Linked DNA regions of Homo sapiens. The protein of the gene in region 1 purifies or fractionates together with the protein of each later gene. This does not show direct contact. Each region holds a gene or a part of one and is shown in the gene's direction. Other genes may lie near its edges. The genes, in order: PRKCE, SERPINB9, HK2, ATIC, SERPINI2, IBTK and AKAP12.

What was found.
Region 2: the proteins of PRKCE (region 1) and SERPINB9 purify together in Homo sapiens (affinity purification with mass spectrometry; one large-scale study listed by BioGRID and IntAct). This does not show direct contact.
Region 3: the proteins of PRKCE (region 1) and HK2 purify together in Homo sapiens (affinity purification with western blotting, with the first as the bait; one study listed by BioGRID). This does not show direct contact.
Region 4: the proteins of PRKCE (region 1) and ATIC purify together in Homo sapiens (affinity purification with mass spectrometry; one large-scale study listed by BioGRID and IntAct). This does not show direct contact.
Region 5: the proteins of PRKCE (region 1) and SERPINI2 purify together in Homo sapiens (affinity purification with mass spectrometry; one large-scale study listed by BioGRID and IntAct). This does not show direct contact.
Region 6: the proteins of PRKCE (region 1) and IBTK purify together in Homo sapiens (affinity purification with western blotting, with the first as the bait; one study listed by BioGRID). This does not show direct contact.
Region 7: the proteins of PRKCE (region 1) and AKAP12 purify together in Homo sapiens (affinity purification with mass spectrometry; one large-scale study listed by BioGRID and IntAct). This does not show direct contact.

What each region holds. Positions count from the first base shown.
Region 1 is NC_000002.12:46,004,675-46,008,174, forward strand, and holds part of PRKCE (protein kinase C epsilon type), read left to right. Parts: intron 1-2,787; coding exon 2,788-2,987; intron 2,988-3,500.
Region 2 is NC_000006.12:2,886,770-2,890,039, reverse strand, and holds the end of SERPINB9 (serpin B9), read left to right. Parts: 3' UTR 1-2,770; downstream 2,771-3,270. UniProt on the Homo sapiens protein: Granzyme B inhibitor.
Region 3 is NC_000002.12:74,889,627-74,893,126, forward strand, and holds part of HK2 (hexokinase-2), read left to right. Parts: intron 1-1,170; coding exon 1,171-1,315; 3' UTR 1,316-3,500. UniProt on the Homo sapiens protein: Catalyzes the phosphorylation of hexose, such as D-glucose and D-fructose, to hexose 6-phosphate (D-glucose 6-phosphate and D-fructose 6-phosphate, respectively).
Region 4 is NC_000002.12:215,318,559-215,322,058, forward strand, and holds part of ATIC (bifunctional purine biosynthesis protein ATIC), read left to right. Parts: intron 1-1,106; coding exon 1,107-1,173; intron 1,174-3,500. UniProt on the Homo sapiens protein: Bifunctional enzyme that catalyzes the last two steps of purine biosynthesis.
Region 5 is NC_000003.12:167,471,243-167,475,245, reverse strand, and holds the start of SERPINI2 (serpin I2 precursor), read left to right. Parts: upstream 1-1,203; 5' UTR 1,204-1,243; intron 1,244-1,418; exon of another isoform or gene 1,419-1,509; intron 1,510-3,401; 5' UTR 3,402-3,411; coding exon 3,412-3,658; intron 3,659-4,003.
Region 6 is NC_000006.12:82,213,245-82,216,744, reverse strand, and holds part of IBTK (inhibitor of Bruton tyrosine kinase), read left to right. Parts: intron 1-494; coding exon 495-669; intron 670-1,915; coding exon 1,916-2,518; intron 2,519-3,500. UniProt on the Homo sapiens protein: Acts as an inhibitor of BTK tyrosine kinase activity, thereby playing a role in B-cell development. Down-regulates BTK kinase activity, leading to interference with BTK-mediated calcium mobilization and NF-kappa-B-driven transcription.
Region 7 is NC_000006.12:151,302,467-151,305,966, forward strand, and holds part of AKAP12 (A-kinase anchor protein 12), read left to right. Parts: intron 1-3,280; coding exon 3,281-3,437; intron 3,438-3,500. UniProt on the Homo sapiens protein: Anchoring protein that mediates the subcellular compartmentation of protein kinase A (PKA) and protein kinase C (PKC).

The sequences.
Region 1 (3,500 bases):
CTGCCATTGGATGGACCAAGGAGCTCTGAGGCCTCTTTAACCAAGAGTGAGCTTGTTAGCTGAAATAGCTAGCAGCCCTGGTGGGTTTTCACACACCCGTTGCCTGTTGATTTAACAGTTCTTTCATTCTCCAAGACCTTCTTGAGGGCTGGGCACTCCATGGCCATATCTGCCTTAATTTCCTTCCAGGCCAGGGTAAGAGGAGAGCGAGTGTATGATGTTATGGTTATCTGTTTTCCCTTGCCTCTGTCCCTGGTTCCAAGTGTACTGCAGAGAGAAGGGTACAGCTCCCTCTCTTAAAGCTCTTGCCTGGCCCTAGACCTGTCAACACCACTCCCTTGAGTTGAGTTTGACACTCCCTCCCCCATCATCATACCCAAAACCTGAGATCAGCTTGAGTTTGGGGCTGGGTGAGGGAGGATGTCTTCTATCCTGGCCTTTGGGTGGGTGAGGATAGAAAGATGAAGCTAGAGGAGAGACTGAGAAAAGAAGTGGGAAGGAGGCCAGTCCTAGGCCTGTTTCCCCTCTACAGCTCCAGATATCTCCTTCTGTCCGACTGTGCTTCAGACAATAAGTTCTGCAGACATAATTTGCACAATAATAATTCTGCAGCCATCCGAGAATGATGAGGCTGAGGAGGGACTTACACTTGCAAAACCTCCTGCTCTCGTGACCATTATCAGATATGCCTGGTAAGGGACATATGCATCTGCAGAAGAGGAATAACCATCACAGCCTGACAATGGTGCCTTGGTTTTTCTATATCCCTTTTTGTATTCATTATCCTAATTTTATGCCCATACCCACTCTATGTTGGTGCTTCATTACTGTCCCCCAGGTTAGTGAGTGGGAAGTGGGAGGTCAGAGTGTGGAAAAGTTCTGTCCCAAGGTTTGGAGATAAGTCAGTGGTAAGGGCAAGACTGTACCCATGCTGGCTGAGGGACACACTCTCAGAAACCCTGCCATCAAACCTTCCTTGGAGGTCACCACCATGACCCAGACCTTCTTACCCAGGAGTAAATAAAAGAGCTTCGGGGGTCATGCACCAGCCCTGAGGCCACAGAATAATTGGTCTCAGTCCCTCTTCGTGCTACTCCAATTAACTTTCTGTGTCTTTATACTCTACCTCATTCCAAATGAGATTTGAAGCATTCATAAGTAGCCTGATGTACTCTGGGGCTGCAGAACTTGTAGCTATTTTCCCAGACCAGTTTGGGGGTTTTCACGTGTTCCTTTCTGAGGCTGAGATCCCCTTTGGGAGCTTCAGGGAGACAGGGTCATATAGAAAAGAGACCCCAGGTAAGAGTTCAGAGACCAGGGTTTGTAGGCCTGGCTCCTGCCCTGCATGCTCTCTGGCTCTGAGCTCTGCCATTGGATGGATACAGTGGCAGGATACAGCGGCCCCAGGGCCTCTGTTCATCCCACTTGACACAGACGCCAGGATTTCCCAGTAGTGATGTTAGCACAGATGTCCCTCTGAGCGACATTATTACAGAACAGAAATAAGACATAGTTTCTTTTTCTTCCCTTGTAAAGACACATAGAAAAACCTTTTCTTCAAGCTTTGCTGTCCCCAAACAACTATGTTTTGCCTTCCAAAATTCATTTAATAACTGAGGCTTTTAGCTCTATTGTGAGATTAAAAGTTATTTAGTCAAGCTAAGTGATAGGTGGATAACTGCTGAACTGGCAAGGGGAGTGTCTGCAGACTCAGCAGCTTTCCCCGTCTTCACCCTCCCCAACACGTCTCAGAGGAGCCAAACTCCAGATCTAGGAAAGATCTCCGGATTCCTTGAGTAAGCCCTTATGGGACTCTGTCCTTCTGAAAAGAAGCTGAAGATCTCTTTCTGTCACTCATGCCTAATTCTCATTCCCAAGGGTTAATAGGCTATGTTCCCCTTCCATAATCCAAGTTATTCACAAGCATCATTTAAAATCGGATTTTGCTCAAGATGCCCATTTCCACACAGAAGAGTGCGTGTCTTGATGAATGAGTTGCTAACAGTAAAGCTTCTTCAAATAGAAAAGGTCAGAGGATCATCCAGCATTATCTCCCCCAGGTAATTCAGGTCATAAGCTCTAGAGCGGGGCACAAGACTGTCTCGTAGTTGAGAAATTGTACTGAGAAATTCCCGCCCCATTGGAGATAAGTTTGCAACATGTCACTTGGGAAAGCAATTCTTTTGTTAATAATAAGCCCATTGCTCATTTTGTTAGATAACCTTGTGTAAGATGGGTATTTAGAAGAAACCCGGCAACAAGGCTGAGTAAAGGTTTTTAGAAGGTATGAAGGTTTCTACCTTCAGTGATCAGCCACCGTTCTGATGGCTCAGTTGTTGAAATAATTATATCACCAGTGATTACTGTGATGACAGTTCTTGATTCGTTGTTCTCATCTTCAGAGGAAACTTGAAGGATACCTGTGACTCTGCAGAATTCCAGAGAGGGCCCAGATTTGTGTGCTTTACCTAGAACAGTGGAATAGGCTACTAGCCAAAGGGGGCTTTCAGAGAGACAGCCAGGTCCAGTGTAATCTGGAGTTGACAAGGGCAGGGAAGGGACTGTGTCCTCCTCCTCTTTGCATACCTAAGCTCTGCTGCGCATTAGGTGCCAATAAGAGTGTGGTGAACAGATGAAGGAACATACAAAGGGATGTCACACTGGATCTGTTGTGAAGAACCAGAAAGAGGACTGAGAGCTTACAGGGGAAAGTCTGAGTGTTGAGTCCTAATGTAACAGGCTTAAGAGGTATGCACTAATGCAATTTCTTGTTCCCCTTGGCCCTAGAAATAAAAGAACTTGAGAACAACATTCGGAAAGCCTTGTCATTTGACAACCGAGGAGAGGAGCACCGGGCAGCATCGTCTCCTGATGGCCAGCTGATGAGCCCCGGTGAGAATGGCGAAGTCCGGCAAGGCCAGGCCAAGCGCCTGGGCCTGGATGAGTTCAACTTCATCAAGGTGTTGGGCAAAGGCAGCTTTGGCAAGGTCTGTGGCACACACGGGTGGAACTGCTGGTTTTGTTCTACTCCTTAGCATTGTTTCGTCTGTTTGATCTAAGATTGAGAGAGGAACCTTTCAGCCTGATCTCGTTAGGTTTTCTTTCCTTTTTTGTAAGTGCAAATGACCTGAGGCCAAGTAGATAGGAGCGCTGGTTCTGCTATTAATTGGCTATATGAGACTTTCAAGTAGTGATTTAATCTCTTTGGAATTCAATTTTTCTCATTTGTTGAATGGGGACAGGAATCAAGTGAGATGGTAGATGAGAAAGCACTTTGGAAAGTTTTAAATGCTCAGTGTTCCAAATCAATAGTAGTGTCAATACATGTCTTCCCTCCTTCAGAGATCAGCTGAAATTCTGTTTTTAATTTGTTATGAAGACTTTGAGAATGAATCTCTGCCCTCAGCAAACCTAGGGTTTAAAGCAAATTTAGCATGCATTACTTTGGAAGGTAAATGTTATTTAACTGATCTTTCTGGCATGTAATAAATGTTCTGTTT
Region 2 (3,270 bases), on another chromosome or scaffold:
TGCCCTCATGATTTGCCAGCATGAATTCATGATGCTCCACACTCGCTTATGCTACTTAATCAGAATCTTGAGAAAATAGACCATAATGATTCCCTGTTGTATTAAAATTGCAGTCCAAATCCCATAGGATGGCAAGCAAAGTTCTTCTAGAATTCCACATGCAATTCACTCTGGCGACCCTGTGCTTTCCTGACACTGCGAATACATTCCTTAACCCGCTGCCTCAGTGGTAATAAATGGTGCTAGATATTGCTACTATTTTATAGATTTCCTGGTGCTTAGCCTTATAAAAAAGGTTGTAAAATGTACATTTATATTTTATCTTTTTTTTTTTTTTTTTTCTGAGACGCAGTCTGGCTCTCTGTCGCCCAGGCTGGAGTGCAGTGGCTCGATCTCGGCTCACTGCAAGCTCCGCCTCCCGGGTTCACGCCATTCTCCTGCCTCAGCCTCCCGAGTAGCTGGGACTACAGGCGCCCGCCACCACGCCCGGCTAATTTTTTGTATTTTTAGTAGAGACGGGGTTTCACCGTGTTAGCCAGGATGGTGTCGATCTCCTGACCTCGTGATCCACCCGCCTCGGCCTCCCAAAGTGCTGGGATTACAGGCTTGAGCCACCGCGCCCGGCTATATTTTATCTTTTATCTTTTTCTTTGACATTTACCAATCACCAAGCATGCACCAAACACTGCTTTAGGCACTGGGGACACAAAGGGGACAGAGCCATCCTCCTTTGACACCTGGTCTTCAGTTCTGTGCCCAACGTATATAGTTTTGACAATGACCAGGTTGGACTGTTTAATGTCTTTCAACTTACCACGTAATCCTCTTGTAGGGATCACATCTTTCTTTATGATATTGTATTTCTCTACCTCTAACAGTAAAAATTCCATTCAACCCTTAAAGCTCACTTCAAATTCTTCTTTGAGAAGTTTTTCCTTTCTCCGCAACCAGATGTACATATTTGAACTCTCTTTGTACTTGGAGGGCACTTCTTTCGTGGTAGTTCTTTTATTTTTATTAATCTCTGTATCCTTAGATAGTCCTCCAACAACCAAAGGTTGGGACTCTGTCTTACATATCTGGGTGCCCCTCATAGTGCAGTAATAAGTAAGTTGATTATATACGAGCTATGTAACTTATATTTTTTAATGGTTGGATATCACTGAGTTTTTTTTTTTAAGAATTTTTTTATTGAGGTAAACTTCACATAACATAAAATTAACTATTTTAAAGTGAGAAGTTCAGTGCCACTTAGTATTGTTAACAATGTTGCATAACCACCACCTTTATTTAAAGTTCCAAAAAAAATGTTCTCCTCTAAAAGGAAACCCCATCCCATTAAGCAGATACTCTCCATTCCTTCCTTCCTCCAGCCCCCAGCAACCACCAATCTGCTTTCTGTCTCTATGGATTTATCTATTCTTGCTATTTTATATAAATTGAATTGTATGAGACCTTTTGTGTCTGGCTTCTTTCACTTAGTACAAGTTTTTGAGATTTATTTACATAGTAGCATGTATCAACACTTCATTTTTATGGCCAAATAAAATTGTATTATGTGTTTATAGCACAATTTATTTATCCACTCATTCATTGATGGACTTTGGGTTGTTTCTGACTTTTGGCTATTGGGAATAGTGCTGCTATGAATGTTTGTGTACCTGTATTTGTTTGAATGCCTATTTTGCATTCTCTTGGGTATATATCTAGGAGTGGAACTGCTGGGTCATATGTTAATTCTATGTTTAGCTTTTTGAGGAACAGACAAACTGTTTTCCACAGCAGTTGAACCATTCCACATTCCCACCAGCAATGTATGAGAATTCCAATTTCTGTCCACTTCCTCACCAACACTTATTATTTTCCTTTTCCTTTTTTTAAAAAAAATAAGTTATGGCCATCTTAGTGGGTGTGAAGTGGTATCTCATTGTGTTTTTTATTTGCATTTCCTATGTAATGAGCTAGAAACTAAAGTACAAACTAGATGGGACATCCAGTCCCTTTGATAGATAATGCTGAGTAAAAAATGAGATGAAAGACATTTGTTTGTTTTTAGAACACGAGTGACAGTTTGTTAAAAAGCTTTAGAGGAGGAATGAAAACAAAGTGAAGTACACTTAGAAAAGGGCCAAGTGGACATCTTGGATGTCAAGTGCCTAGTTCAGTATCTTTTTTTTTTTTTTTTTTTTTTTTGAGACAGTGCCTCACTCTGTCACCCAGGCTGGAGTGTAGTGGCATGATCTGGGCTCACTGCAACCTCCTCCTCCTGGATTCAAGCAATTCTCTTGCTTCAGCCTCCCAAGTAGCTGAGACTACAAGCACCCACCATCACACCCAGCTAATTTTGTATTTTTCAGTAGAGACGGGGTTTCGCCACATTGGCCGTGTTGGTCTTGAACTCCTGGCCTCAAGCGATCCGCCTACCTCAGCCTCCCAAAGTGCTAGGATTACAGGCATAAGCCACTGAGCCCAGCCCTAGTTCAGTATCTTTTATGTAAATTACAAACATCTGCAACATTATGTATCATATGCAGATACTTATTGCATTTCTTTTATTAGTGGTGAAAGTGTTCTATGCATTTATTGGCTCTTGAATTTCCTCATCTATGAATTGTCATTCATACACCTACTTTTCTGCTTCGTTTTTACATATGTCTTTGCCTATTAAAGATATTATCCCTCTGTTTTATATTTTCTCTCATTCTTGTATTGCCTTTTAAATTTTGTTATGATGTTTCATTAATAAACAGTGTTTTGTTTTCCTCTATAATCAAATCTAGATTTTCCCTTTGTGATTTCCGACACCACTTCCATTCTTAGAAGTACTTTTCCATTCATAAAGTAGTAAAATAAAATAGTTTTTTCTCTAAACTTTTATTTTTGTAATGATTTAACTAATTCACATGGAATTTGATTTTGTATTATTGACATTCAGGAGAAAGCATAATTTTATTTATTAGCCAATTTCTGGATATTGTAAATCTATTTTTCCATCTTTATTCTTCTGGTGAACTTTAGAATAATTTTTTAATACCCAAAGTAATTTTTTTAACTTTCAATTTTTTGGGAGGAAGGATTAGCATGACATTAAGCATATAAATTACTTGAGTAAATTGATGTATTTACAATGTTTAGTCATCTCATTAAGGAAAATGAGAAGAGTCTCCATTTATTCAAGCCCTTTTCTATACTACTTTTATTAAAACTTTTTTTTTGAGTTTTTTTCAATATAAGTCCTACATATCTTTTTTTTCTTGTTATGGCTATTTC
Region 3 (3,500 bases), about 29 Mb from region 1:
ATAATCAGAAGTAGGCCTGTGTTTCACCCCCCACCGTGGGAAGCCCCCTCCGAGCCCCTCCACAACTGTGTCATCATTCTCCCATGCCAGGGGTAAGTGTTGTGCTGAATCAGTCCCTTGCTTTTCTTTTCCACCCCCATATATGTAGGTATGCATCCATATTGTTTAGTTTTACTTATTTTTGAACTTGCCACAAATAGAATCACATGGTATCTCTTCTGTGGCTGGCTTTTCTCACACAGTGTTTGTTTTGAGACGCATCCGCATTGAAGTATACAGTTGGTAGTTCATTAATTTTCAGAGCTGTATAGCGTACCTTTGAGTATGTTGTTTTTTCTATCGTTGAGGTGATATTTAGGTTACTTCTAGATTTTGACCATTACAAACAGTGCTACTGTGAACATTCTGGCAAATGTAATGCTAGAACTCTGGAGCAAGATTTTTTTTCAACATTCTAGAGCAGGGGTTGACAGGCAACAGCCACAGGCTGTTATTGTACATATAGTTTCATGAGGATTGGGAGGGGGCAGAAGCCCAGCCACCAACCCTGGGACATGGCATCCTCAGCTTTGTAGATGGGGAGGGTGTCCTGACCCTGCTGTATTGGGGCAGATCACAACTCTCTCTTTCTCTGGTCCATATAGGAAGGATCTGTGATCACTGTGATATCCTAGCAGTGACTCTGTAAGTCTGCTTCTTTTGCCTCCGATGACATTTTGGAGCACATGTGGCTCTGATATGAGGCTATGCGCCAGGAAAATAGAAAATCACATTCATGAGTCCTGGTCCTGGTCTCCCCCTCCAGAGTTGTGCTCCTCTGTTAGGCACACTTGTGGCTTCCATGGTTGTTGAACTTCTCTTTTACTGACTATTAGTTTTAAGAACACAGTTTGCCAGGATCTCAGACGTTTGTCCCAGAATTGAATCCTAGCTCTCCTAATGGCTGATATGATGTGGAAATTGGGCATAGTACTAGTGTCTCCAAGCCACGGTTTTCTGGTACTTAATAATATATAGTAAATGTTTAATACATTATAGCTGTCATCCTTCTCCTCTTCTTAATTATTTCTGTGTTTCCAGCATCGCTTCTTAGCTTTCATTTCTAAGTGCAAATACAAACCAATCATGACTAAGATGGTTTTTCCTGTGTCTTCCTCCCACCTTTTCCAGCTTTGCCAAAGTCATGCATGAGACAGTGAAGGACCTGGCTCCGAAATGTGATGTGTCTTTCCTGCAGTCAGAGGATGGCAGCGGGAAGGGGGCGGCGCTCATCACTGCTGTGGCCTGCCGCATCCGTGAGGCTGGACAGCGATAGAACCCCTGAAATCGGAAGGGACTTCCTCTTTCTCTCCTTCTTCCCTGTTTTAAATTATAAGATGTCATCCCCTTGTGTCAGAGACAGACCCCTTGGCTTTTGCTTGGCAGAGAGGACCCCACTGGACTGGGTTTTGTCTCTGCATCTCATTGTAGAGCTTGGTGGCTGAGCTTGGCCCTATTAAGATAAATAGAGTTCCAAATAAGGATTTGTTCACATGCATCATAACCATTCCCATTGGTTCTCCTAAAACATGAAAATTATCTCCCTTAGTAATCCCCCTTGCCAAATTCCATGTCCCTGTATAATTCTACAGGATGGGGACACTAATGAAGATACGGTTGCTTCACCTTGGAGCCTGAACATGACATTTCTAAGTGGGGTGCATCCCCCAGCACTGATGTTGTTACTGATTCTCCTGTCAGAGATCTGGGAGGTCTCCACTGAGGATGTGAGCCTGATTATCCTATAGGCAGACGTGGGGAGGGTGGAGGGGTGACAGTGGAGGAAAATCCATGGATATCCACGCAGCAGCCCCTCTTTAACCTCATCTACAAGCATTTGCCCTGTGGATTCCAGCATTTGCCATTCCTGGAATCAAGGAATCCTGAGTCTGGGCAATGAAACCAAAGCCAGGAGTTGACGCATCCTGCAGTTGGGCCAGCTGTCGCATCTCAGCGGGGCGCACATGTTATCCACAAGCAATGGACCTTTGGGGAAGGGGGAGTTTTTAGTTTGTTTTACAAATTTTTCCTGCAAAAGTGGAATCACTGTATTTTCATTTTAATTTATATTTGAAATTTTATTTAGTTCTTGAGTAGATCTGCTTCTTCATCTTGACATGTAATGAATGGTCAGTTGTACGTAATGTATTTATATGTTAATTTGTTATGTATATAGATGTGCAAGTCTTGTCAGAATTGGCCTCAGTGTAGTTAAAGGGCAGAAGGGGAAGATACTGACTAGTCATAGAAATACCTCATTCGCCTGTGGGAAGAGAAGGGAAGCCTCTTCAGGGTGAGTGAATGGCAAAGCGGTTGCTTCTGGCTCCTCCTTCCCCTGTGGTCTTGGAAGTGTGTGGAAGGCAGGGACAGAGATGGAGGCCGAGCCAATAGACTGAAGAGACCACAGCAATTGGCTCCTCCATCTAGAGATTTTCTTGGCAGTATTCCATGGGATGTTAAGCAAAGGAAACCAAAGGAATCGTTTCAAATGGACTCATGGCTTAGAAATCTTTATTCTTAGGGCAGTCAGTAGTATTCTAAAGCTTTCTGACAAGATAAAGGAAGTCACCAAAATTTCTTTTTTTAAATTGTATCTAATCCTCAACAACAAACCAAAACAGAACAATTAAACAGCCAAATAAAACCTCAGGGACAACATTTTTGGTGTATTTGAGCCCTCCCAGCAAGTTTCACCTTGGGTTTGTATTTTAAATGTTTTACAAGAATTGTCCATGTGCTTCCCTAGGCTGAGCTGGCATTGGTCTGCTGACCTGTTTTTGTGTTTTTCTTTTTTTTATACACAACATTTATTTCAAACTATTGGGAGGGATGAGAGTGGCTTAAAAACTTCCATCCCTACTTTTCAAGAGTGCAGTTGATTCTGAATCTGAAAGCCCGCCTCTGTCCTAAAATACAAACAAGCACAGACATTAAACCTGGATACTATATGATAAAGAGGGATGTAACTATTGAATTGGATACAAGGATCAGAATGGAAAGAAACTCACGATGAAATTGAACCTGGTTTTTGTATATTTATCAAACTTGTGCTGAGAATAGTGTCTGATTATACGACTTTTAAGCAAAGTTGGGTGTAATTAGGTGAAAACAGCCCAGGTCCTCCCGGGAGCACAGAGGGGCTAGGGGCTGGTCCTTCTCGTTTGCTCTAGTCTTGCTTTGCTGTCTGGTGTAGCTCCTCTGCTGCTCCCATCTGCACTAATTGACCCAAAACGTGGGTATTTCCTGCTACACAAAAGCCAAAAGGTTTCATGTAGATTTTAGTTCACTAAAGGGTGCCCACAAAATAGAGATTAATTTTAACTTAAATTTTAAGCTTGAAGATTAGGTACTATCTGTGAAGTTACACTTTTTTTTTTTTTTTTAAAGGTAGAGATGTGTGTGTGTGTAGGTATTAAAGATGTGTTGTTGGTTTCCAAAAAGGAACACTGGAAAATAAATTT
Region 4 (3,500 bases), about 170 Mb from region 1:
TAGAAGAAAGCATCACAGCGTAACTGACTTGCAAAGGAATTTTTTTTTTCAAAGTGCTTTACATTTGTTCGTTCACCTAAGAATGAATTGTATATAAACCGAAACGGCAAGAAACTGGTATCCTCCTAGTTTGTCAGTTGTGGTACAATTTGGTGAATAAAGCTGAATGGCTACAGATCATCAGACAAGCCATTGACTTACAGAAACGCATAGACTGTTCTGGAACTAGCAACAGTTTTGTAAAATTCCTTTTACCTTTTTTACATTTTATTGCTCAAGAAACTGGGATCAAGAACTGAAGAAAAAGATTTTTAAATATATCTCTCTTTTTTTTTTTTGAGACAGGATTATACTCTTGCCCAGGCTGGAGTGCAGTGGTGCGATCATGGCTCGCTGCAGCCTCTGTCTGCTTCCCAGGCTCAAGCAGTTCTCCCACCTCAGCCTCCCAAGTAGCTGGGACTATAGGCATGTGCCACCACACCCAGCTAATTTTTGTATTTTTTATAGAGACGGGGTCTCACCTTGTTGCCCAGGCTGGTCTCGAACACCTGGGCTCAAGCGATCCCCCACCTTAGCCTCCCAAAGTGCTGGTATTACAGACATGAGCCACTGTGGCCAGCCAGATATATCTGTTAATCCTAATTTTTTTGTTTGATAACTCCCCAACTACATGTTTGATATTCTTTAATTAAGAATATTATGCTGGGCATGGTGGCTCTTGCCTGTAGTCCCAGCACTTGGAGAGCTGAGACAGGAGAACCGCTTGAGCCCAGGAGTTTAAGATCACCCTGGGCAAGATGGCAACACCCCCCTTCTCTTTAAAAAATTGAAAAGACCAGCTGGGTGTGGTGATGCATTCCTGTAGTCCCAGCTACTTGGGAGGCTGAGGTAGGAGGATCACTTGAGCCCTGGAGGTCAGGGCTATAGTGAGTTGTGATTACGCCACTACAATCCAGCCTGGGCGATAGAGTGAGACCATCTCAAAAAAATAAATTTTTTTTTTAATCAATGGGATTTAATTTGATTGAAGACACTATGTTGAAAGACATTCCTTAATCTGACTTGTTTTTTGAAGCTAATGACTTTGTTTAACTTTTTTAAATTAGGAATCCTAGCTCGTAATATTCCAGAAGATAATGCTGACATGGCCAGACTTGATTTCAATCTTATAAGGTAAAAACCTGAAATTAAACTTTTAACACATTACGAACCAACGACAAAGACTATGCCAAACCTGGTGTCCCTGTGTTTTCTTACTCACTATAAACCTTTACTGCGTACCTTCTGTGTGACTTTGTATGTGTGTAAGCATTTTGGTTTGGCCAGATTTATATACCAAAATACATACTGAAGTTTTTTAGGAAGTTACAATCTAAATCTTAGTATGTATAGGTTGAGTATCCCTTATCTGAAATGCTTGGGACCCAGAAGTGTCTTGGATTTCAGATTTCTTCAGATTTTGGAATATTTGCAGGTAACATGCCAGTTGAGCGTCCCTCAGAAATCCGAAATGCTTCAGTGAGCATTTCCTCCAAGTGTCATGTTGACGCTCAAAAAGTTTCAGATTTTGGAGCATTTCAGATTTCAGGTTTTCATATTAGGAATTATCAACTTGCACAACTAACTGAGTTATTTGCATAAAGATACTGGCTGTTTCTCTTAAATATACGTAACAGCTTTATTGAGATCTAATCCACATACCATACAACTCACCAATTTAAAATGTACAAATCAGTGGTTCACAGAAGTTGTGCAACCATTACTGTGTTAGTCTGTTCTGCATTGCTATAAAGGAATACTAGAAGCTGGGTAATTTATGAAAACAGGTTTATTTTGGCTCGTGATTCTATAGACAGTACAAGAAGTGTGGTGCCAGCATCAACTTCTGGTGAGGGCCTCAGGAAGTTTATAATCACAGTGGAAAGCAGAGGGGGAGCTGGCATATCCCATGAGAGAAGAAGCAAGAGAGAGGGAGAGGAGGAGTTGCCCAGCTCTTTTACTTTTTAACTTTTATTCTTAATTTAATTTAATTTTATTTTGAGACAGGGTCTCGCTCTGTTGCTCAGGTTGGAGTTCAGTGGCATGACCTTGGCTCACTGCAACCTCTGCCTCCTGTGTTCAAGTGATTCTCCTGCCTCAGCCTCCTGAGTAGCTGAGATTACAGGCGTTTGTCACCACGCCCAACTCATTTTTACTATTTTTAGTAGAGATGGGGTTTCACCATGTTGGTCAGGCTGCTCTTGGAACTCCTGACCTCAAATGATGCACCCACCCCGGCCTCCCAAAGTGCTGGGATTAGGTGTGAGCCACCACGCCCGGCCTGCCCGGCTCTGTTAAACAACCAGCTCTACATGAACTCAGAGTGAGGACTCATTATGGGGAGGGCACCAAGCCATTCATAAGGGATCTCCCCCGTGACCCAATCATCTCCCACCAGGCCCCACCTCCAACATTGGGGATCACATTGCAAAATGAGATTTGGAGAGGACACACATCCAAACCATATTAATTGCCACATCCAATATTAAAACATATTCATCACCCCCACCCTAAACCCTATACCCATACGCATTTATTCTCCATTTCCCCAACGTCCTCCAGCCTCGGCAACCACCAATTGTTACGTGTCTGATTTGCCTGTAGTGGACATTTTCATATAAATAGAATCTAACAATATATGGTTTTTTTGTTCCTGGCTTCTTTCACTTAGCATGTTTTCAAGGTTTATCCATGTTATAGCATAGTATCAATAGTTCATTTCGTTTTTAGTGCTGAAAAATAATCCATTGTGTGGTCATACCCTGTTGTTTATCAGTTCATTTGTTGATGGACATTTGGGTTGTTTCTACTTTTTGAATATTATGAATAATGCAGCTATAAATATTTGTGTATAAGTTTTTGTGTGGACATACACATTCGTTTCATTGGGGTATATACCTAGGAGTGGAATTCCTTGGTCATATGGTAACTATGTTTAGCTTTTGAGGAACTGCGACCCTGTATTTCAGAGTGCTGCACCATTTTACATTTCCAGCAGCAGTGTGCTGGATGGGGCTCCAGTTTCTCCACATCCTCATCAACGTTACTATCTGTCTTTTTGATTCTAGTCATTCTAGGGGTTCTGAAGTGGCATCTCATTGTGGTTATAATTTGCTTTCCAAATAATGTGGAACACCGTTGGATGTGCTTCCTAGCCAGTTGTTTACCTCCTTTGGAGAAATGTCTGTTGAGACCTCTTGTCCATTTTTAGTTGAGGTATTTATCTGTTTATTATTGAGTTGTAAGTTTATTTCCTCTCATTCTATGGATTGTGTTAGCCTTTCTTGATGGTTTCCTTTGATCATCACAAGTTTTTTCTTTTTTTTGAGACGGAGTCTTACTCTCGCCCAGGCTGGAGCACAGTGGCGTCATCTTGGCTCACTGCAACCTCCACCTCCCGGATTCAAGCGATTCTGCCTCAGTCTCATGAGTAGCTGGGGTTACAGGTGCCCGCCACCACA
Region 5 (4,003 bases), on another chromosome or scaffold:
TATTGCACAACTCTTTTTGGAAAATTATCTCTGTGTTAAGTTAAAGCTACACTAGAGTGTGCTTATGATAGAGTAGGTAATATTAGAATAAAACTCAAGATCTAGAAAACATTTGGAGATGCCTATATGGGAAATCAAAAAATTTTAGTTAATTAGTAGATTATGGCCTATAATGATCTATTCTCAGGCCTATTTTTAAGTTATAGCCATGTTAGGACATGGAAAGATGTTAACAGGGTCCTCTGACAAGTTTTTAAAAATGAATTCCATTTAAAGCTATCTATATTCACTTTATTTCTTTTACATGAGTTTATCAGAAATAGTATTAAATTTGGGGATCAACAGATATTTAATTAAAAGTGAACTAAATTTTTTTTCTCTTCTCAAAGGCTATAGATAAATAATACAATGTGCTTAATATCTGATTGCCATTGAGGTGATTGATTTGAACTACAAAAATGAGATGAAACCCATTAAATTATGCAATTTTTTATTAATGACCTTTTTGCAAAGAAAATCATGTAGAGTTTCAAAAGCACATAAAGGTAACAGCAATTTTTATCATCCAATTACCTATGGCTAATAGTATTGTCCTGATATATTTTGGCAAATCCATTATCTTTTTTGCTGGCCTTTCTGCTCAGAATAAAGAACATATTTCTTCAATATCCACTCTTTTTCTTAAGGATTCAAATGGACCTTATATCCACAGGAAACTCCTCTGACTATTGTATAATTTGATGAATGTTGAGAACTCTGTCAATGCAGCAGTGATTTGTCTCTGTATTCTGGACTTGATTTAGCTTTATTCTTTTTCTCATAGGCATTCTGAAATATTTATGACAAAGTGCATTGGTAATCTGATGTAGGAGTCCTGTGAGAAACAAAAAGAACTAATTACTAGCAAATTTACAACCAGTAGCGCATCCTTTCAAATTCTGTGCAACTTTTAAAAGAAGCAAAATAATGGATAAAATAATAATATAAATTTAATACTTTTAAAAAATTCTATAATTGTTTTTTTCTCAATTCTTGCACATTTCATCAGTTGATCATTAACCCGATTGTGTTAGTTCTTAATACAAATGTAGTGAACACCTGCTTTTGTTCTAGAGGAATTAATCAAGCAATGGTCAAGATAAATGGAGTTGGCCTTGATCGCTCAGGTGTTTATGTACAAGAGTTTTCCAGCAAGCGTATTTTAGTTGTAACATTCCAGTGAATAATCAGAAGTCAGTTTGGGGTAAGTACCTTAGAAATAAATAGCTTTTGAATAAGTATGTATGCAATAACATTGCCTATGAATGTTTAGTAGAGTATGGAATGGCATTTCAATTTACTTTGGTGTAAAAATCATTTGAATTTATTTAATTAACATATCGCTTTTATTCTCCTTAAATGATTTCACCACAAATCAGAAGATCCAGTTCTTATAGGACTATTCATCAGGTTGTTTAGTTCAGCATTACTTTGTGCTTTCTGATAAGATATGATCCAAAACCTGATGAGGTAAGTGAGTTTTTAAAACCAATATTTGTCTGAGGTTATAATTTATTAAGTGCTTAGAAATTTTCTAGAAAAAATGGATGTGGATGCTCAAATAATATAAATTTAATTATTAAGATTATTAATAATAATGAGAAGGAAACTCTAATACTGAGATTCTACCACAAAGAAAAAAATTACATTTTTAATAATACTGTTCATTATTCCAATATAAACCAAATACATAAAGCTATATCTAATGTATTTCCAGTTGATAACTTAAAGGTACTAATAACATTTTGACTACGTATCTACAAACACATATTTTGGTCAGAAGTCTTCTGAGAAATTGAATATATTAGAAGATAATGATACACAGACATTTATTTTGCATGTAAAACTTCTCTTACTCACTGGTTTTTAACTATTGTTGCACTCTCATTTATAAGCTCATATGCTAAATTAATCCCTAATGAAACATTTGCTTGATATTAATAGCATATAGGTCTATATCTAAAGTTTACCAACACATTTTCTAACAATTGCTTTGGATTGTTTTTTGAGGCTTTTGTCTTTTGCAAATATATATCTAAACAAATACAGTTTAACAAAATACATTGAAGGATAAATAATGACTCCATAGTTTAATTTGGAACAATATTTGACTATTAGTAATCTTTATATATAAATATAGTTGTTCTTAGGGACTCCTACCATTTATGGTACCCTTAATGATCTGCAAAACACTCTAGAAATGTAAGTCTCTACTTAAGGCTGACAACAGACTATTCTAAAGGCTTTCATCTTTACCCCTAATTAAGGGTTACTTCCTAGTAACTTACTGATGGATAAGTTTTTAAGGATTACTAACATGTATTATTTATAAGGTAAAATTATTGTTACTAAAATTTATGAGGCCTTGGAGTCAACATTCTACCAAATATGTGGTAATATTGCAAAACTAATTCTGCTTGAGATATAATCAAATGGTTGAATTTCCTGCAATTTTAGTGGAGAGCACTTTAATAGGGTATTATTAGTCTTGTGAATTGTTTATGGTTTTTAATTGCTGCTACTCTTACATTTGTTAGTATTTCTGTCAATTCTTTGATATTATATTTCATTTTATTTATATTTTTTCTTTTATAATTTCAAGTTTTATTACAGATTAATGTACATGTGCAGGTTTGCTACATGGGTATATGGCCTGACACTAAGGTTTGGGGTATAAATGATCTCATCACCCAGGTAGTGAGCATAGTACTTTATTGTATCATTTATATTTGATTGCCATTTTGTTTCAAACTTTGCAGGTTTTCTGCATTGTATTTGTCTTCTTTTGGAAAAGCAGGAAGAGGGCTTTGGGTTATTTTGTCCTAAGAAATAAAGCGTGAGGAAAATTGTAAAAAGTTAGCCAGATTACTCAGTTGCTTTAGAATACATTAATTTTCTAATATTATAGGTCTAAAACCACACTGGAGTAAGTCTGTTTTTATTCCATTTCTTCCTCTTGATCTATAAATTACTGTAGAGTAGACAGCACAGAAGGTTTACCTGATGTCAGAGTTACAGTTATCCCACTTAACCATGAGAAAAGATAGAAAAAAACTATTGTATAACTATTTGGAGATACCATTGCCATTGATAACATTCCAACATTGTAGTGTCTTTTTTGATTTTTGCTACAAAACTACAAGTATATTTTCTACTGGTTCTTGAAGATATGTAAGAAATACCATTAACACATGAACTATTTTTCTGAATAGATGATACTTAGAAATCTAATTGGATAGAGTTCACTTGTGGTAGTAAGTTCTATTAAGATAGAAAGCTACAACAGGTAGAAAGTTTTCTGTTGAGCTCTCTGTGGAAAACTCTATTTTGAAAATGAATATATTTTGATTTAAACAATACAGAGAAGTCAAAATGGACACAATCTTCTTGTGGAGTCTTCTATTGCTGTTTTTTGGAAGTCAAGCCTCAAGATGCTCAGCTCAAAAAAATACCGAATTTGCAGTGGATCTTTATCAAGAGGTTTCCTTATCTCATAAGGACAACATTATATTTTCACCCCTTGGAATAACTTTGGTTCTTGAGATGGTACAACTGGGAGCCAAAGGAAAAGCACAGCAGCAGATAAGACAAACTTTAAAACAACAGGAAACCTCAGCTGGTGAGACTCTTACATCTCCTTACTTATACTGGATAAGATATGGACGCATTCATTTTTTAATATTAGAAGTTCAGGATAAAGAAATTTTAATAAGTGAAAATGTAATGAAAAGTACAAAATTGTAATAAAATGGAGAATTGTAAATGTAATTTTCATTCATTTATAATTAATTCCTTTAAAAGGTTACAAAAATTATTAAGAAATTGACATCTATATAAATGTAAAATTAAGTAAATATTTGTACATTTTCTTTTAGTTTGTTTTAGCCAGTTTTAATTACTTGAGATTATACTGGGCGTGCATGTGTGTGTGTGTATGTACATACTCATAAAATATACATCTATA
Region 6 (3,500 bases), on another chromosome or scaffold:
TGATATCATAGTAGCCCAGTTTGGTTACGCACATATTTTCTGAATACATGCAAGAAAGGGGGAAGAGAAAGGGAGGAAGCAAATAAACAAGCAGATTATGAAGACAGTAGATTTATATATTTTTAATCCAAGTTGAAGAATTTTTTTCCCTTTGGGCAACAGGAAGTATAAGTTGAAAAGTTTTAAAAGCTAGTATGACACTAGATTTGCTTTTTAGAAAGGGAACTTTGGTTGCAGTATGGAGGATGTGTTTGTTGAAAGAGATGGAATCATGGATAATTGAGAATCCATCCACCAAAAATTTCCTGTATAATACAGCCAATATATTCAGTGGAAAATGTGTTGAAGAGAGGATGTAGTTCTTCAAAAACACTGAATATATGTGAAAAAGATTTCCATATTTTTCTAACTCCTTTTCTATTCCATTTACTTCTCAATCATTTTAGTAGTTTCAGTAAAGCCTTGATTAATGGTAGTTTATTTTTTTTTAACAGAGATTTTATCAAACCTTCACAATTCCTCATCAGATGTGTCTTATGTCTCTGATATAAATAGTGTGTATGAAAGAATTCGACTTGAGAAACTTACCTTTGCACATAGAGCTGTTAGTGTCAGCACAGATCCAAGTGGATGCAACTTTGCAATCCTGCAGTCAGATCCTAAAACAAGGTATACTTGTATATATTAAATTTCATTTTTTAGAAGGAACAATCACTGAATTTTCTTGTTTTCAGTAGCTGCTGGTGCAAATTTAATTGAAGAGCTGTTGCCAAGACCTATAGAGACCTTAGACATAATCATGTTTACAGATTATGTCTACAGATAATCCAGAGGTAGAATTTGTTATACTTGGAGTGATGAATGTTTCCTTTGGTTTATAAACTGACATTTATTGAAAATATTGAAAATATCTATACATGCACTCACAAAGTTTATTGTCTTTCTTTTTTTTTTTTTTTTTTTTGAGATGGAGTCTTGCTCTATTGCCCAGGCTAAGTGGCAAAATCTCGGCTCACTCTAACCTCCACCTCCCAGGATGAAGCAGTTCTCTTGCCTCAGCCTCCCAAGTAGTTGGGATTACAGGTGCCCGCCACCACACCCAGCTAATTTTTGTATTTTTAGTAGAGATGGGGTTTTGCCCTGTTGGCCAGGCTGGTCTTGACCACCTGACCTCAGGTGATCCGCCAGCCTCGGCCTCCCAAAGTGCTAGGATTACAGGCATGAGCCACCGCACCCTGCCTTATTTGTCTTTCATACTGTATGATGTACCCTGGGTTCTCAGATTCTGAAAAATGTATTATAAATATTTCTTAGGCAGTTTGCAAAGATTTCTGACCCTTGAATATGATGAGAATTGGCAAAATAAGTGTTGTGGCGCCATCTGTAAATCGCAATGCAAATCTCCTAAGTCACATAAGCAGAGAGGTATCAGATTAAGATAAACATCAAGGGTACTGTTGAAGAGGGAGGAAATTCTGCAAGTAGGGTCATCATCCATCCTGGTTTGCCCAGGCCTGCCCCAGTTTTAACATTGAAAGTCTCATCTGAGAAACTCGTCAGTCCAAGGCAAACCACAGGAGGGTTGGTCTTCCTACTGAGAAGGGTGAAATGTTGGTTGGGAAGGTGTAATTGCATTCCCACAGTACTGTAAGAACCAGGGATACGGACAACTTAGTTCTTATCATTTTAATTTGAGAGAAGAATAGAATATAAATATAAAAAGGAATAGAAAAAAATTAAAGGATGATATAGCATCTAGGACTTTGTGCAATATTCTTGTATTTTAGGAAATGCCAAATTTAAAATTTTCTAAATATTGTTAAAAAAATTGCATTTTAAAGGAGAATTGGCTAGGTATGAAAAAGGATTTCCTTCATATTTTTTGAAGCATAATTTGTTTTTGTCTTCTTTCTAGCCTTTATGAAATTCCAGCTGTGTCCTCATCATCCTTTTTTGAAGAGTTTGGCAAACTGTTGAGGGAAGCAGATGAAATGGACAGCATTCATGATGTGACATTTCAAGTTGGCAATAGACTCTTCCCTGCACATAAATATATTTTGGCAGTGCATTCTGATTTTTTTCAGAAATTGTTTCTTTCAGATGGTAATACTTCAGAATTTACAGATATTTACCAGAAAGATGAAGATTCTGCAGGGTGCCATCTCTTTGTGGTAGAGAAGGTTCATCCTGACATGTTTGAATACCTTTTACAATTTATATACACAGATACTTGTGACTTTTTAACTCATGGCTTCAAACCAAGAATACACTTAAACAAAAACCCAGAAGAATATCAGGGAACTCTGAATTCTCATTTGAATAAAGTGAATTTCCATGAAGATGATAACCAGAAGTCTGCATTTGAAGTTTACAAAAGTAATCAAGCTCAAACAGTTAGTGAGAGGCAGAAGAGCAAACCTAAATCTTGTAAAAAAGGAAAAAATATTAGGGAAGATGATCCTGTAAGAATGTTGCAAACTGTTGCAAAGAAATTCGACTTCAGTAATTTGAGTAGTAGGTATGATTTCTCTTTTATATCTGTTCCTGTACCTCATTCAGTCCTCCTTTAAAAAATTTCCCACCCTTACTGTGAAACCCCATCTCTACTAAAAATACAAAAAATTAGCCGGGTGTGGTGGCGGGCGCCTGTAGTCCCAGCTACTCAGGAGGCTGAGGCAGGAGAATGGCCTGAACCCGGGAGGCGGAGCTTGCAGTGAGCCGAGATTGCGCCACTGCATTCCAGCCTGGGCGACAGAGCGAGACTGTGTCTCAAAGAAAAAAAAAAAAATCCCACCCTTTTTGCCTTGCTTTGCTTTTCTTTCCCCTCCCCAAGTCTCCTCCCACTTGTTCCATCCCCTTCTCTTTCTCCTTCCCCTCCTCTTCCTCTCTCTCCCTTTCTCCCTACCCATCCTTTTTTTGGGGAGGTACATGGATATGTCTTTCCTCCATTTGCGGGCAGAGCTATCTCTGGGACTTCTTGGATTACATTAATGGATAGGAAAGCTGTTGGTGGGTTTGAACTCTGGTTTGTGTATGTAACAGGGATCTGGAGTGGCAGGCAATGTGGTATGCTGGAAAGGTCTTTCAAGTTAGACATACATATCTCTTAGCTTTACTATTCCTGGCTGGGACAATTTTCTTTTACCTCAGTTTCTCGAACTCCTGGGCTCAAGCGATCCTTCTTACTTCAGTTTCTCAATATAAGAAATGGGAAAGATAATATTTGCCTCATATTGTTGATATGGTTTTGTCATATGTAAATTGCCTAACACCATAGTATCATATTATGAATCAGATTATTTGAAATTCTTTCTTTTTTTAAGGTATTTATGTTGCTTGTGGCAGTTAAACCTTCGTTGTAGGGTGGGAAGAGAGGAGGGGTGTGTATCGTGTTTCCTGTTTAAAAATAATGAAGGGGCCGGGCGCGGTGGCTCACGCCTGTAATCCCAGCACTTTGGGAGGCTGAGGTGGGCAGATCTCCTGAGGTCAGGAGTTTGAGA
Region 7 (3,500 bases), on another chromosome or scaffold:
TTCTAAAAGAGTAGACGGAAATTTGTGCCTGTGTGCTATAGTCTTCATGTTTAAAGAGACTCAGTTTGGCTCCAACTAAAGATACCTTGGATTGGGCAATTCACAGAGGATTATAAGAATTTTTTCAATAATTTTAGGTACTTGGTAGAACCCTAAACTCTATAGAACTTCAGAGTTCTGGTTCCTAAATAAGAGGCACAATTGACCGAAGTTTATTGCATTGAAATTGAGGTATTAAGATGGCTTTTTTATGTTCCCTGTTTAGTTTGCCATATCATGAAACTGTGTATGTCAACAGTTTCTAGGTTTAAGATTCACTGGGTTACCATGTAGCCCACGATAATATGTGATTCCTGCTTTCCTCCCCCAACTTTTCTTCCTGTTACTAATCAAATCTAAGTCCTGTGTACATACTCAATGATATTTAGTTAGAATACTCTGACATTTGGCTGGGCGCAGTGGCTCATGCCTGTAATCCCAGCACTTTGGGAGGCTGAGGCGGGCGGATCAGCTGAGATCAGGAGTTGGAGACCAGCCTGGCCAACACGAAATCCCGTCTCTACTAAAAATACAAAAATTAGCTGGGCGCAGTGGCAGGCACCTGTAATCCCAGCTACTCGGGAGGCTGAGGCAGAAGAATCACTTGAACCCAAAAGGCGGATGTTGCAGTGAGCCAAGATCATGCCATTGGACTACCTGGGGGACAAGAGCGAAAATCCATCTCAAAAATAAAAATAAAAAAAAGAAATACTCTGACATTTTTGCAGATGGGCTTTGTGGAGACACACTGCCCCCTTCTCCATTCCCTACCCCCTGCTTTTGTCTTTAGGTTTCATTTAAAATGCCCATCTTTCATATTTTGGTAAGAGAAGACTTTAAGTGGAAATGTAATCTGAGTATTCTGTTTAATAAATGGACTCAGCATGGGCATTTTGAAGCCAACAATCCCATCTGTAGTGTAAGTATTAAACTACAGTGGTATTATTTCAGGAGGAAGCTCATGCAGTTGAAGGACAGCCTTGCTGGGAGCCGAGAACAGCCAGGTGAAATCAATTTAGCACAACTTAAGGCTTCTGGATTGCGTGTCTTGAACCCACTGTCCCTTCAGCGTTCAGGGTCTAAGTCAGTGGTGAGTCCAGAGTCATTCATTGGCCTGGAAGCAGGATGGAATGATGTCAGATGGAGTGCAGAGTTGAGATTGCTTTGTAGCATGCAGGTCTGTACCAGACCTTTTCCAGACCGGTTCCAGACCTGGAATACCCTTTAAGTCATTTTATAATTGTGTGTAGTAACAGGACCTTCAAAGCATGGCACGTATCTTTGTAATTGTGTGTAGTAACAGGACCTTCAAAACATGGCACCTATCTTTATAATTGTGTGTAGTAACAGGACCTTCAAAACATGGCACCTATCTTTATGTTGAGAGCCTCAAACAGAAAAACGCTGGAAATAGTTGGTGGCAAGAGTTGGCTTCGGGCCATGATGCCCCCATTCCTGAGCTGTGTGACCTGGGGCAAGACAACCCCACCCCACCAGAATTGCTTTGAGTCCCGGTGTCATTATTATAAAATGGAAATAATAGCAGCTGCCTATGTTGGTTTTAAGATAAATGAGATATCTGTATATATAACATTGCTGTATATTACATTGTTGAAACATTTAGGTTCCTAATGGTTATTGTTTCTATTGGCTTAAAATTTTTTTACCTATATTCTCAGGATTAAAAATACGACCAAGAGCAAGCCGGGCACAGTGGCTCACACCTGTAATCCTAGCACTTTGGGAGGCAGAGGTGGGTGGATCACTTGAGGTCAGGAGTCTGAGACCAGCCTGGCCAACATGGCAAACCACGTCTCTACTAAAAATACAAAAATTAGCCAGGCATGGTGGTGCACGCCTGTAATCCCTGCTATGTGGGAGGCTGAGGCAGGAAGATCACTTGAACCTGGGAACTGGAGGTTGCAGTGAACCGAGATCACGCCACTGCACTTCAGCCTGGGTGAAACAGTGACACTCCATCTCAAAAAAAAAAAAAAAAAAAAAAAAAAAAAAAGGATTATATGACCAAGGGCATGCCTACATGCCTGCTGATTTTGTGGGTTTTTTCATTTTTGTTTTTTGTTTTTCTCGCTCCGTCACCCAGGCTGGAGTGCTGTGGCTCAATCTCTGCTCGCTGTAACCTCCACCTCCCACATCCACCTCCAGGTTCAAGTGATTCTCCTTCTGCAGCCTCCCAGGTAGCTGGGACTACAGGCATGCACCACCATGCCTGGCTAATTTTTTTGTATTATTAGTAGAGACGGGGTTTCACTATGTTGGCCAGGCTGGTCTTGAACTCCTCGTGATCTGCCCGCCTCGGCCTCCCAAAGTGCTGGGATTACAAACATGAGCCACCACGCCCGGCCATGCCTGCTGATTTTGAAACTGATGCCATCAGTTGCACAGGGCATCCTATGGGGAGGATTGCAAATGACCATTGTAGTAATATTTTTAAGGAAAAAACAATGACCCAAATGGACATGTTATATGTGTCTTGTTTGCTTGCTGGGCTCTGGGAGCACTGGCCTTCGCGCCAAGCGGCCTCCCTTCTCTGCACCCCGTTTATCCTTTTCTTACACAGCCCTTGCCTGTGGAAATGAGATCTCAGCTTTACCATTGCTTCCTCAGAGAAGTCCTGGACACCCCCAGCCTCAGTCAGGGCTGTTTTTTTTTTTTTTTTTAAAACCTACTTGATTCATTCTCAAGGGCTCTGTTTATTGTTATTTGTTCTATGTATGCCTCCTTCATGACAGTTTCCACAGCTGCAGTTTAGTAATTATTTGTTTAAAAGTCTGCCTTCTGACTTGTTCAGTCAATTATGCTTAACCTGCATCTAATCACAAGGAAACATTATTTATTATTTTAAAGTAAAAAAGAGGTTTTTAAGTCTGCCTTCCATAGTAATTTGTAAGCTCAAAGCTCTGGGAAACACATCTGATTTTTTCATGGTTATATTTGAAATAGGTCTGGAAAGGTGAATGTATGTATCTGGTGTTCCAATGAATGAATTAATGAGTGGATGAATGGCTGATGGGCACACTTACCCAGATACAAGGCCCTATCTGCTTGTAAGGTAGCTGGATCTTTCAGACAAATATAAGACTTAACTCTTCATTGTTTTTGAACTTCCTTTTCTCTGTATTTCTTCTTTCACTGGTTTGTATTCTGGAAGTTAATGCCTTGTTTCTGACTTGGTCATGAGGACTGAAATTAAGTTTCTATGGCTTTGTCTTTTCCATAGCTCCTACAGAAGAATGGTCAGCTGTCCACCATCAATGGCGTAGCTGAGCAAGATGAGCTCAGCCTCCAGGAGGGTGACCTAAATGGCCAGAAAGGAGCCCTGAACGGTCAAGGAGCCCTAAACAGCCAGGAGGAAGAAGAAGTCATTGTCACAGAGGGTAAGCCGCCCCTCCAGGAACTGGAAGGCACACAGCACTTGCAACAAACTTTGGACTCAGCAG